Homo sapiens: one gene and its partners. The protein of the gene in region 1 purifies or fractionates together with the protein of each later gene. This does not show direct contact. Each region holds a gene or a part of one and is shown in the gene's direction. Other genes may lie near its edges.

Region 1 (3,500 bases):
GTGTTTTACAGTTGGTTTGTTCATATCAGGATCTAAAGTCTTCACATTGAATTTGCTTAATATGTCTCTTAGGCCTTTTAATCTACAACAGTCTCCTCCCACCTCTTTTTTACCTACTATTTGTTGACAAACCAGGTCATTTGTTCCCTAGAATTTTCCACATTGTAGATATTGCTTGTTTTATCCCCAGGGTGTCCCGTAATGTGTTCCTCTGTCTCTAATATTTCCTTTAAAATGTTAGCAACAGAGGCTTAATCGGATTCAGGTTCAGTACTTTTGGCAAGAATGTTTCATTAGGTGGTTCTGTGTTCTCCTGTGGAGTCACATCCCATCTCAGGCTGGCTGGGCTGTGTCTCTCTCATTGTAATCCTGACGACCAGTGGGCTTAGAGGGTGTCAACCTGATCCACCCAGTAAAAGTTCCCCTCTTATATCATGGTTTGAGCTCCCAAAAATAGTTTTGCACTGGGAGGGAGGATCATTGCTCAGATCGTTATTTCACTAAGGATTGCTATTGTTCACCTTCTAATTCTATCATCTTTCTGCTTTTATCGAACTTTTCTCTCACCAGCTCTTTAGTGCCCTGTAACACAGTTCGTACAAGAAAAGCAATATAAATATCTACATTTTCTCCTTTACTTAACATTTTTCCAAATAGTGAGCTGGTTCCCTAGGGGATCTTCTAGAAGTGACTAGGAATTTGTTTTTTTAATTTGTTTAATGTCATTTAGTTATTATGAATTTTTTGGAATGCCTTATTTTAAGGTCATTGAAGTCCTCATTAGTTCACGCACATAAGCAGCTTTTTAGAAAAAGGAAGAAAAGCACTACTGTGTTATTACTGGTTAATCCAGTACCAGGAACTTCTAGTACAGTTCTAGAAAGGTGCTTTGCAGCATGTAGCTTGTATCTTTTGCTTCCCCTGGAATTTAAGCTTCAAGGCCAGCACACTCTGGTATATGTGCTGAGAAACATGTGATGGGGCTGCCCAGCCACGTCGGGGAAAGAAGGAAGATGTCTTGAGGTGCAGTGAGCTTGCCCACTAGTAATTATTGTCTGATCAGTGTCCTAGAGTCTGACTGTGCCTTTTAGGCATGGGGAAAGGTAGAAGAGGGACTTAAGAAGAGAGCTAAAGCTCCTGGTAGATTTGTGGGGTTTTCTTTTGTTTGCCTGGTGTCCTTAACCATAGCCTGTCAAGAGAACAAAGGTGGATATATTTTTCAGTGAACACATACATGTTTAATAGTCATTCTGGAAAATATTTCTAATACCTTCTTTGGAATTTTCTCATGCTATAAATTTAGATTTTTAAGAATTGGTCATATCGCACCAATTTTAGACTAAGAGGTGTAGGATCGTCACTGCCCCCCCATGGTGCCCACCATGTGGCTACTAAGTGGGGTGCACATTAAATGCGGACAACTTGCTTAATTATTTATAGGGTCTGCAGGAGCACACTATTCCTGCTTTTAGCACAGCACTCATATAATTTTTTTTTTCCCCTCCAGCCTTCCAGAATACATTGTAGTGCCAAGTTCTTTAGCAGACCAAGATCTAAAGATCTTTTCCCATTCTTTTGTTGGGAGAAGGATGCCAGTAAGTGATTTCTGTTGGATTTTATGAATGCTGACGTCCATTGTTTCTACACAGTGAAGTAAGGATTCTACCTCTCCCCTAGCTCTGGTGCTGGAGCCACTCTAACGGCAGTGCTCTTGTGCGAATGGCCCTCATCAAAGACGTGCTGCAGCAGAGGAAGATTGACCAGAGGTAATTGAGAAATGGTCATTGTCACTTTAGATAGTTTTACTTGTTGTGTAACTACAGTGAGTTCCCTACTAATTGAAAATAACAAAATGCATAGTCTTACTAATTAGTTAGCACCATGTTTTATATAAGAATTGCCATTTTGAAAAGAATGTGATAATATTAAAATTAACTGACATTGGAGTTACACTAAATATAATTTAATTATTTGGTTTGTAAGACACTTGTGGATCTTACATTGCTGACATCTTGCTATAGCATTTCCTATAACATACTTTCAAAGTGCAGTGATATCCAGTTGAGACACTTCAGGATAAATCAAACTTTTCTTGTAGTTTGATGTGTCTTATTTAGGTCTACACATTTGCAATAGCTAGAACAGTGGTTTTAATTAGCCACCACAGACGAGTCTGGCATCATCTGCTGTGGTCATTAGTAACCTCCACGTCATTAAAGTAGGAGGCCTTTCTCAGTTGTGCTCATAGCAGTGAGCAATACTATTGATCACTCTCTCCTTAAACCCGCCTGGGCCCTCAGCCTCTGCTCCTCTCCACTCTCCTGAAGCTCCTCTTCCTCACTGGCACTCCGTGCCTTCTGCAGACCCATCCTCTTCTCTCCAGACATTACACAGATTCTAAGGCCGCTTCCTCATGTTCTGTATTCTTTTCCTAAAGAAGTTTCCCCAAGAATGTGGCTTTAGTGACCAACACATTTATATCTTCAGTCTACCTTGACTTCTACATGGAGGTCTCAAAGACCCCTTAAACTCATTATGTCCAAAACCAAACTCAAGGATATGGCCTCCATGCCCTCCCCCAGCCTGCTCTCAGAAACCGGGGGGTCATCCTGGATGCCTTCCTCTTTCTTTCCCTTCCCCATCACCAATCCCTCCTCAGGTTTTCTCACTTCACTTTTCAGACACCTTGCAAACCCATGTGCTTCCACAAACCCAGCTCCACCTCTGCCTGTGTGTTATAAGTGCTATCATTTCCTCCTTCCATGTCTCCTCCACCCCTGGGCTCCAGCCCCCTGGACTTTCCCTGGTGTTTTCAACCTCCTGACATTGTCCAGCGCTCTTCCCTTCTGGACTGCCTTCTTTGCACTCATCTGGGAACACTCTCCACGCTTACCCACTTGGCACTCCTTGTTTCTTTTTTTTTGAGACAGAGTCTCACTCTGTCACCCATGCTGGAGTGCAGTGGTACGATCTCGGCTCCCGGGTTCAAGTGATTATCATGCCTCAGCCTCCTGAGTAGCTGGGATTACAGGCACCCACCACCACATCCAGCTGATTTTTGTATTTTTAATAGAGACAAGATTTCACCATGTCGGCCAGGCTGGTCTCGAACTCCTGACCTCAGGTGATCCACCCGCCTCGGCCTACCGAAGTGCTGGGATTACAGGCGTGAGCCACTGCACCCGGCTCACTCATTCTTTATATCTCAATTCAAACATCATTTCCTCAAGATAAGCCTTCTCTCCCCTCTAAAGTTTGATCAGACCTCAAAAGTCTATGTTCTTAGAGCTCCTGAGTTTTTAACATTTATTTCAGTTTTTAATTATATATGTGTGTGTTACAGTTTGATTACCGCCTGTCGTTTTTACTCCATGAGATGAGGGACTATGTCTGTTTTGCACACCGTTATATATTTAGCACCCAGGAAGCATATATGATATTTATTCAATACTTGTTGAATAAATGAGGAGTAAATGAACAGATCTTATAAAACAGGCTTA
Region 2 (3,733 bases), on another chromosome or scaffold:
ATTTTGGCCCAGGTTCATCTAACTCTGTTCTTTCCACTGTACCATGCAACCTCTTCATATAGAAATAGGTGTTGCTGTTCCTGTTTTTACAGATGGTGGAAACCAGCATTTAGAGATGTTCACTAATTTGCTCAAAGATCTGTGGCTAAAGGACAGAGGAGACGGTATTAGCCAGGAGTTTAGTCTAGTTTGAGGTGACTCCAAAAGCCATAGTCTGTTTTTATGGCAGGTACTTTGATTAATTTGGAACCAACTTATGGTAGTTATTAGGTATGCTTAGACCTTATAGAAAATTTAAAGCCAAGTAAAATTAGTTGAATGCTAATATATAAAAGTTGCCTTGCATACTGTTTTTTCATAATGTGTAGCATGTACATGGTAGAGCTGTTGTCCTTCAAATTCGTATCCTAGGGAACAGCATATATTGCCCATATTTATAATTAGACATGATTTTGAACTTATTGGGAACGTTTTCTTGGGACTTTCTGTGCTGTTTATTTTGAAAGGTTAATCTGGCTGGGCCTGGTGGCTCTCGCCTATAATCCCAGCACTTTGGGAGGCCAGGGCGGGCAGATCACCTGAGATCGGAAGTTCCAGACCAGCTTGGCTAACATGGTGAAACCCGGTCTCAACTAAAAATACAAAAATTAGCCAGGTGTAATGGCGGGTGCCTGTAATCCCAACTACTTGAGAGGGTGAGGCACGAGACTCGCTTGAACCCAGGAGGCGGAGGTTGCAGTGAGCTGAGATTGTGCCACTGCACTCCAGCCTGGGTGACAGAGTAAGTGCTGTCTTAAAAAAAAAAGAAAAAAAAATATTAATCTTTTGGAAAAGGGGAATATTTATTTGGGAATGGGTGACTTGATCCAGTGGACAAGGAAAGTCTTAGAAGACATCACAGAAGACTTCTTGAAGCAGAAAGGATATAACTTGGATTTGGGCAAGCAGAAACAAGAAGGAAAGCTATTTTAGGCAGTGGTGGACAGCACGCAAAAAATGTTAAGAGTATAAGGGACATCAGTTAATTTTGCCAGTCCATTATTCAGTCCCTTCTGGTAATAGTACTCCAATTTTCCTAGGGAACCACCCCTCTCAGTTATATGAACCCCACCCTGGCATAGGGTATGCCAGTGACTCAGGCCTAGCTAATGGTCAGTCAGTATATAGTCCATTGCTCTGGCCATAGTGATTGTTCAGAGGTGGGCCCATTTTGCAATCAGCACACATGAGTAACTGAATTTTTTGTTGAACTATTGAGAAAGAGGCATGCTTTGAGCCCTGGGGTTGCTGAGACAATAGGATGTTAGCCTGGAAGTTACCAATAAGTGGGAAGCAGAGCCAAAAGATGGAAGTTCTGATGGCAGTGTTTGTACCTTTGGGTCAGCCGCCATGCCTAAAGTCAGTGCTATCTCTGTACTTTCAAATTATGTGAGCTAATAAATTCTTCTTTCTGCTTAAGGTGAGTAAAAAAGTTGTTGTTTTTTTTTTTTTTTTTTTTTTTTGAGATGGAGTCTCGCTCTGTCACCCAGGCTGGAGTGCAGTGGCATGATCTCGGCTCACTGCAACTTCTTTCTCCTGGGTTCAAGTGATTTTCCTGCCTCAGCCTCCTGAGTAGCTGGGACTACAGGCGCCCACCACCACGCCTGGCTAATTTTTATATATTTAGTAGAGATGGGGTTTCACCATATTGGCCAGGCTGGTCTCAATCTCCTGACCTTGTGATCCGCCCGCCTTGGCTTCTCAAAGTGCTGGGATTACAGGTGTGACCCACCGCACCCGGCCAGAATTTTTTGATGATAAAAAGGTCCTGACTAATACAGTGAAACTACCCGTGATGATATTGTGGTGAGACAAATTTGGTCAAAATAAATTATTGGATTAGAGAATATAAGAGCTGCCTTTCGTATATGAGGAAGCTAGATAGCCAATAGCTTTAGAGGTCAGCATTCATTCAACAGACATTTATTGACTAAAGGACTTCGGCAGTTATTGGTGTATGAAGAGGACCAAGACACTCCCTGCCCTGACAGAACTCAAGGGATCTAATGGGGAGATAGACGGGTGGAAGGATTGTTTGAATTGTGCAATAATAGCACAACTACTATGTTTTAGGCATTATGCTGGGTAATGTAGAGGAAACAAAAATGAGGCCTTACGAATATTTTTAAATCTAGTAATCTGGTTGGGTAGCTGCATAACAGAAAGCTGTGAGGGAATGAAATCCTGGTACACTGAGATCATACTGGACAATGAAAATGTACAAATGCTGATTGAATTTATTTAAAAAAGGATAGGAGTCCAAGATCACTGTTAAACCTGTAAGACTAGAAAGATGGTAATGCTATTGCTTATAATAGTAGCTAACATTTATTGAGGTCTTAACATATTCCAGGTATTGTGCTAAGCTGTGTGTGTCTATATATAACATGAACAAAAACAACCATAGTAAGTTGTAAATACTATTTTTGACCCCATTTTACGTGTGAGAAAATTGAGGCTCAGGAGATTAAATAATTTGATCAAGGTCTCCCAGCTAATAAGTGACAAAACTAGGATTCAATTTCTGATACATTTGACCCTAAAATTTGTGTTATTGATCAATAATTATACCGACAAGTTGGTTTCCTGTAATTTCTTTGGTTTGCCCAATATCTTTGAAGGGTTGGTAGCACATCTAGTGAATCATGTGGGACAAATAGAAACAAATAGAAACTAGAGCTTTAGAATGTAGAGTGACACTTTAGGAGGCTGAGGTGGGTGGATCACGAGATCAGGAGTTCAAGACCAGCCTGGCCAACATGGTGAAACCCTGTCTCTACTAAAAATACAAAAAAATTTGCTGGGCATGGTAGCACACGCCTGTAATCGCAGCACTTTGGGGGGCCGAGGCGGGCAGATCACCCGATGTCAGGAGTTCAAGACCAGCCTGGCCAACATGGTGAAACCCCATCTCTATTAAAAATATAAAAAATTAGCTGGGCGTGGTGGTGCATGGCTGTAATCGCAGCTACTTGGGAGGCTGAGGCAGGAGAATTTCTTGAACCCTGGAAGTGGAGGTTGCAGTGAGCTGAGATCACGCCATTGCACTCCAGACTGGGCAACGAGCAAAACTCCATCTCAAAAAAAAAAAAAAAAAAAAGATGTAGAGTGAAGTTAATTAAGGCTATGGAATAAATTCAAGAGAGTCATAGTGAGAGTTTATAAGATTCTTGGAGGAAGGACGTAGAGAATGGAAAAGGTAGGCACTGTCAACTCAGGGAGATACCAGCATTTTAAAAGGTGGAAAGAGGAATCAGTCTGGGAAAAAACAGAAACAGAAAAAAGATTCAGTAACTAGGCCTGTACTAGAATTCATAGAATCCTAAAACTAGGCCGGGCGCAGTGGCTCACGCCTGTAATCCCAGCACTTTGGGAGGCCGAGGCAGGTGGATCACCTGAGGTGAGGAGTTTGAGACCAGTCTGCCCAACACGGTGAAACCCCGTCTCTACTAAAAATACAAAAAATAGCTGGGTGCCATTGGCAGGCGCCTATAATCCCAGCTACTCAGGAGACAGGCAGGGGAATCGCTTGTGCCGGGGAGGTGGAGGTTGCAGTGAGCTGAGATGGCGCCTCTGCACCCCAGCACTGGCAACAGAGCGAGACTCCATCTCAAAAAAAAAAAAAACAAAAAAAACAAAAAAAAAAACAAAACCAGAAAAATCCTAAAACCAGAAGGAACCATAGTGACCTTCT
Region 3 (3,733 bases), on another chromosome or scaffold:
GCAATAGTGTAGTTATGGCTCACTGCAGCTTCGAAATCCTGGGCTCAAGTGATCCTCTTGCCTCAGTCTCCTGAGTAGCTGGGACCACAGATGCATGCCACCACCCCTAACTAATTTTTAAAAATGTTTTGTAGACATGAGGCCTTGCTCTATTGCCCAGGCTGATCTTGAACCCTTGGGCTCAGGCAATCCTCCTGCCTTGCAAAGCGCTGGGATTACAGATGTGAGTCAATGTGCCCAGCCCTTTCTTGACATTTTAATTAAAGGATTGGGACTTTTAAAAACCATTATAAAATACCTTGGTATTAGCATACATATACTTAAATTCGTTTAGCTGTAATAGCCAGCCTAAATTTTTTCAGCAAAAACTTTATCAGATGCTAACAATGATAAAACCTAATTATTGAAAACTATTAAACTTCCCGCCAGGCGCGGTGGCTCATGCCTGTAATCCCAGCACTTTGGGAGGCCAAGGTGGGTGGATCATGAGGTTGAGAGATTAAGACCATCCTGGCTAACACGGTGAAACCCTGTCTCTACTAAAAATACAAAAAATTAGCCAGGCGTGGTTTCTGGCGCCTGTAGTCCCAGCTACTCGGGAGGTTGAGGCAGGAGAATGGCGTGAACCTGGGGGGCGGAGGTTGCAGTGAGCCGAGATCGAGCCACTGCACTCCAGCCTGGGCGACAGAGTGAGACTCCGTCTCAAAAAAAATAAATAAATAAAATAAACAAACTTCCCAAGGTTTTTCCACATTCATTCTGATGTCTCCTTCAATAGTTATTATTTATTGTTTTACTCAGAAAGTATGTAGTTTAAAATTATTAAAATAGTATTATGTATTTATAGTAGAGTGAAAAAGAAAATCTAAATATAAAGATCTCTCAAATCTACCATGAATGTTAATGGATTTTTATTATATATTACTGTTTTGTAACCTGGTATTCTTTATATAAAAATAAATTGTGAAAAGTATGAATTATTAATATAGGTTATCATTGATTACGGTAGTTTATGGTAGTACCATAATTAAACCAATCCTTTAACATTGGTTGAGTTGGGTTCACTTTTTCATTATTTAAACACAACTACCATCACAAAACAACAACACTGTGATCAGCATTCATACAACCAGAACATGGGGTTATATTATAATTATTTTCAGTATAAATTCTTGGAGGCAGAGTTTCAAAGTCTGGATAGCTGTAGAACTATTTTCAAATATAAAGTTGAGACATTGGAAGATCTGTAGCTTAGAGTTTATTGTTTAATTTGTTGTTGAGTAACTTTAAATAGAAACATTAAAAAGAATATGTAGCTGTTTCCTTAATGCTACAATTTATGTTATGAATGTATAATGGTCATGTTAAGTGTTTTATTTATTGCTTTATTTATATATTGCACATTTTTCATGATTATGTATGTGTTTCAAAGGCTATAGAATTGCTGTTGACATCTGGATAGTTATAAAAGCCTAATATAAGTTTATGTAACATCTTTATTTGACAGATTAGTAAGTGGGTGTTCTTAGCAACTTCTCTGGTGTATGCAATCCTTGGGCTTTAGACTTTTACAGGCCACTTTTAAACTCAACCTTTAGCATTTACCAGAGATCTGATCCTTATGCTTCCCACCTGTGAAATATGGATGATACCAAGCTCACAGAAAGTTGTGGATTAAATGAAGCAAATATGGAACTCCCCAGAGTAGTTCTTGATAGATAATAAATGCACTAATTAACTTTACTTATTTTCTTAGTATAGCTAAACAGTGAGACGAGTTACCAAAGGTCTATTTCTAAAATGTGGAAAGGCCAACCTGATTTTTCAGTTAACAAATCTTTGCAAACATATAATTTTCAGTGAGAACATTATCACTATTAAAAAGGACACAGAATTACAATTGACTAAATGTAAAGTTTTATTTTTTGAACAGTTGGACGGTATTTCTCTTGGGATATATTTATTCTTTTATAAGAATTTTATCATTTACATGTAATAGAAACTGTTGGACTTAATAGAAGACTTGAAAAAAAAACTGATAAATGAAAAAAAGGAAAAATTAACCTTGGAATTTAAAATTCGAGAAGAAGTTACACAGGAGTTTACTCAGTATTGGGCTCAACGGGAAGCTGACTTTAAGTAAGTTATTTATTTCATGTCCAGGTAAAAATTGAGAATTTTATTTAGTTTTTTAGTTTTTTTTTTTACTTAGTTTACTTTTTATATTAGGTGGCTTCTGAATTCTGATCTCTTTATACAAGCTTGAAAATAGCTGTTACTGGTCTGGTGCGGTGGCTCACGCCTGTAATCCCAGCATTTTGGGAGGCCTAGGCAGGCGGATCACTGAAGGTCAGGAGGTCGAGATCAGCCTGGCCAACATGGTGAAACCTCGTCTGTACTAAAAATAGAAAAATTAGCTGGGCGTACTGGCATGTTCCTGAAGTCCCAGCTGCTTTCAGGAGGCTGAGGCACGAGAATCTCTTGAACCTGGGAGGTGTAGGTTGCAGTGAGCTGAGATTGTGTCACTGCACTCCAGCCTGGGCGACAGAGTGAGACTCTTGTCTCAGAGAAGAAAAAAAAGAATATAGCTGTAACTAATCCCATGCATGGTTATTTAAATTTTCTCTCTTTTTTAAATTTAAATTTTAATTTTTTGAGATGGAGTCTTGTGCTGTCACCCAGGCTGGTATTGAGTGGTGCGATCTTGGCTCACGGCAACCTGCACCTCCTGGGTTCAAGCAATTCTTCTGCCTTAGCCTCTCCTGCCTTAGCCTCCTGAGTAGCTGGGATTACAGGCACACACCACCACGCCCAGCTAATTTTTGTGTTTTTAGTAGAGACGGTGTTGCTGTGTTGGCCAGGCTGGTTTCAAACTCCTGGCCTGAAGTGATCCACCCGCCTCCGCCTCCCAAATTGCTGGGATTACAGGCGTGAACCACTGTACCTGGACTAAATTTTCTTTTAATCTAGAATATACTTAAACTTAGATGTTTAAAACAAAAACACAAAGTAGTTCGTTTTCTGTTTCTTAATGGGATTAATTTGTATTTTGAAGGGAGACTCTGCTTCAAGAACGAGAGATATTAGAAGAAAATGCTGAACGTCGTTTGGCTATCTTCAAGGATTTGGTTGGTAAATGTGACACTCGAGAAGAAGCAGCGAAAGACATTTGTGCCACAAAAGTTGAAACTGAAGTATGTTAATTGAAGTATTTAAAAATATCCAGTGAGGTTTTGGTACCAGGGTTTAGTGTACCACATCAATGATGAGAAACACCAAGATAGTTTAGAATTAAAACAATGCTTTGTGTGTAGCTTTATTATAATTAGGCATGTTTTTTTAGAAGTGTAAGGCACCAAGAATTTAAATATAATGATTGGTTTTGAAAAATTTATACCTCTGTTATATATATATATATCTTATTTTGGTATTGCTTGAATCATTGTGTTGTAGGCAGATAGATTCTTTTTTGAGATTTGTCTTACTTAACATTTTTAAATAAAAAGAATTTTAAAGGTGTAAGAGACCTAAGACGTCATTTACTTGCTGTTCTGATTAAAACAAAAATGTTTATGTATAAAAAGGGTTGCCCTTGCCGGGCAACTACCGTTTCTTACTCTTTTAAAATTTTATTTGTTTATTTATTTATTATAGTTTTAGAGTTAGGGTCTTGCCGTGTTACCCAGGCTGATCTTGAATTCCTGGCTTCAAGCAGTCCTCCTGCCCAGCCTCC

Evidence for each region.
Region 2: the proteins of MTMR10 (region 1) and LRCH3 purify together in Homo sapiens (affinity purification with mass spectrometry; one large-scale study listed by BioGRID and IntAct). This does not show direct contact.
Region 3: the proteins of MTMR10 (region 1) and KIF20B purify together in Homo sapiens (affinity purification with mass spectrometry; one large-scale study listed by BioGRID and IntAct). This does not show direct contact.

Annotation. Positions count from the first base shown.
Region 1 is NC_000015.10:30,957,129-30,960,628, reverse strand, and holds part of MTMR10 (myotubularin-related protein 10), read left to right. Parts: intron 1-1,507; coding exon 1,508-1,595; intron 1,596-1,677; coding exon 1,678-1,766; intron 1,767-3,500.
Region 2 is NC_000003.12:197,794,209-197,797,941, forward strand, and holds part of LRCH3 (DISP complex protein LRCH3), read left to right. Parts: intron 1-3,733. UniProt on the Homo sapiens protein: As part of the DISP complex, may regulate the association of septins with actin and thereby regulate the actin cytoskeleton.
Region 3 is NC_000010.11:89,721,965-89,725,697, forward strand, and holds part of KIF20B (kinesin-like protein KIF20B), read left to right. Parts: intron 1-1,999; coding exon 2,000-2,139; intron 2,140-3,055; coding exon 3,056-3,194; intron 3,195-3,733. UniProt on the Homo sapiens protein: Plus-end-directed motor enzyme that is required for completion of cytokinesis. Required for proper midbody organization and abscission in polarized cortical stem cells.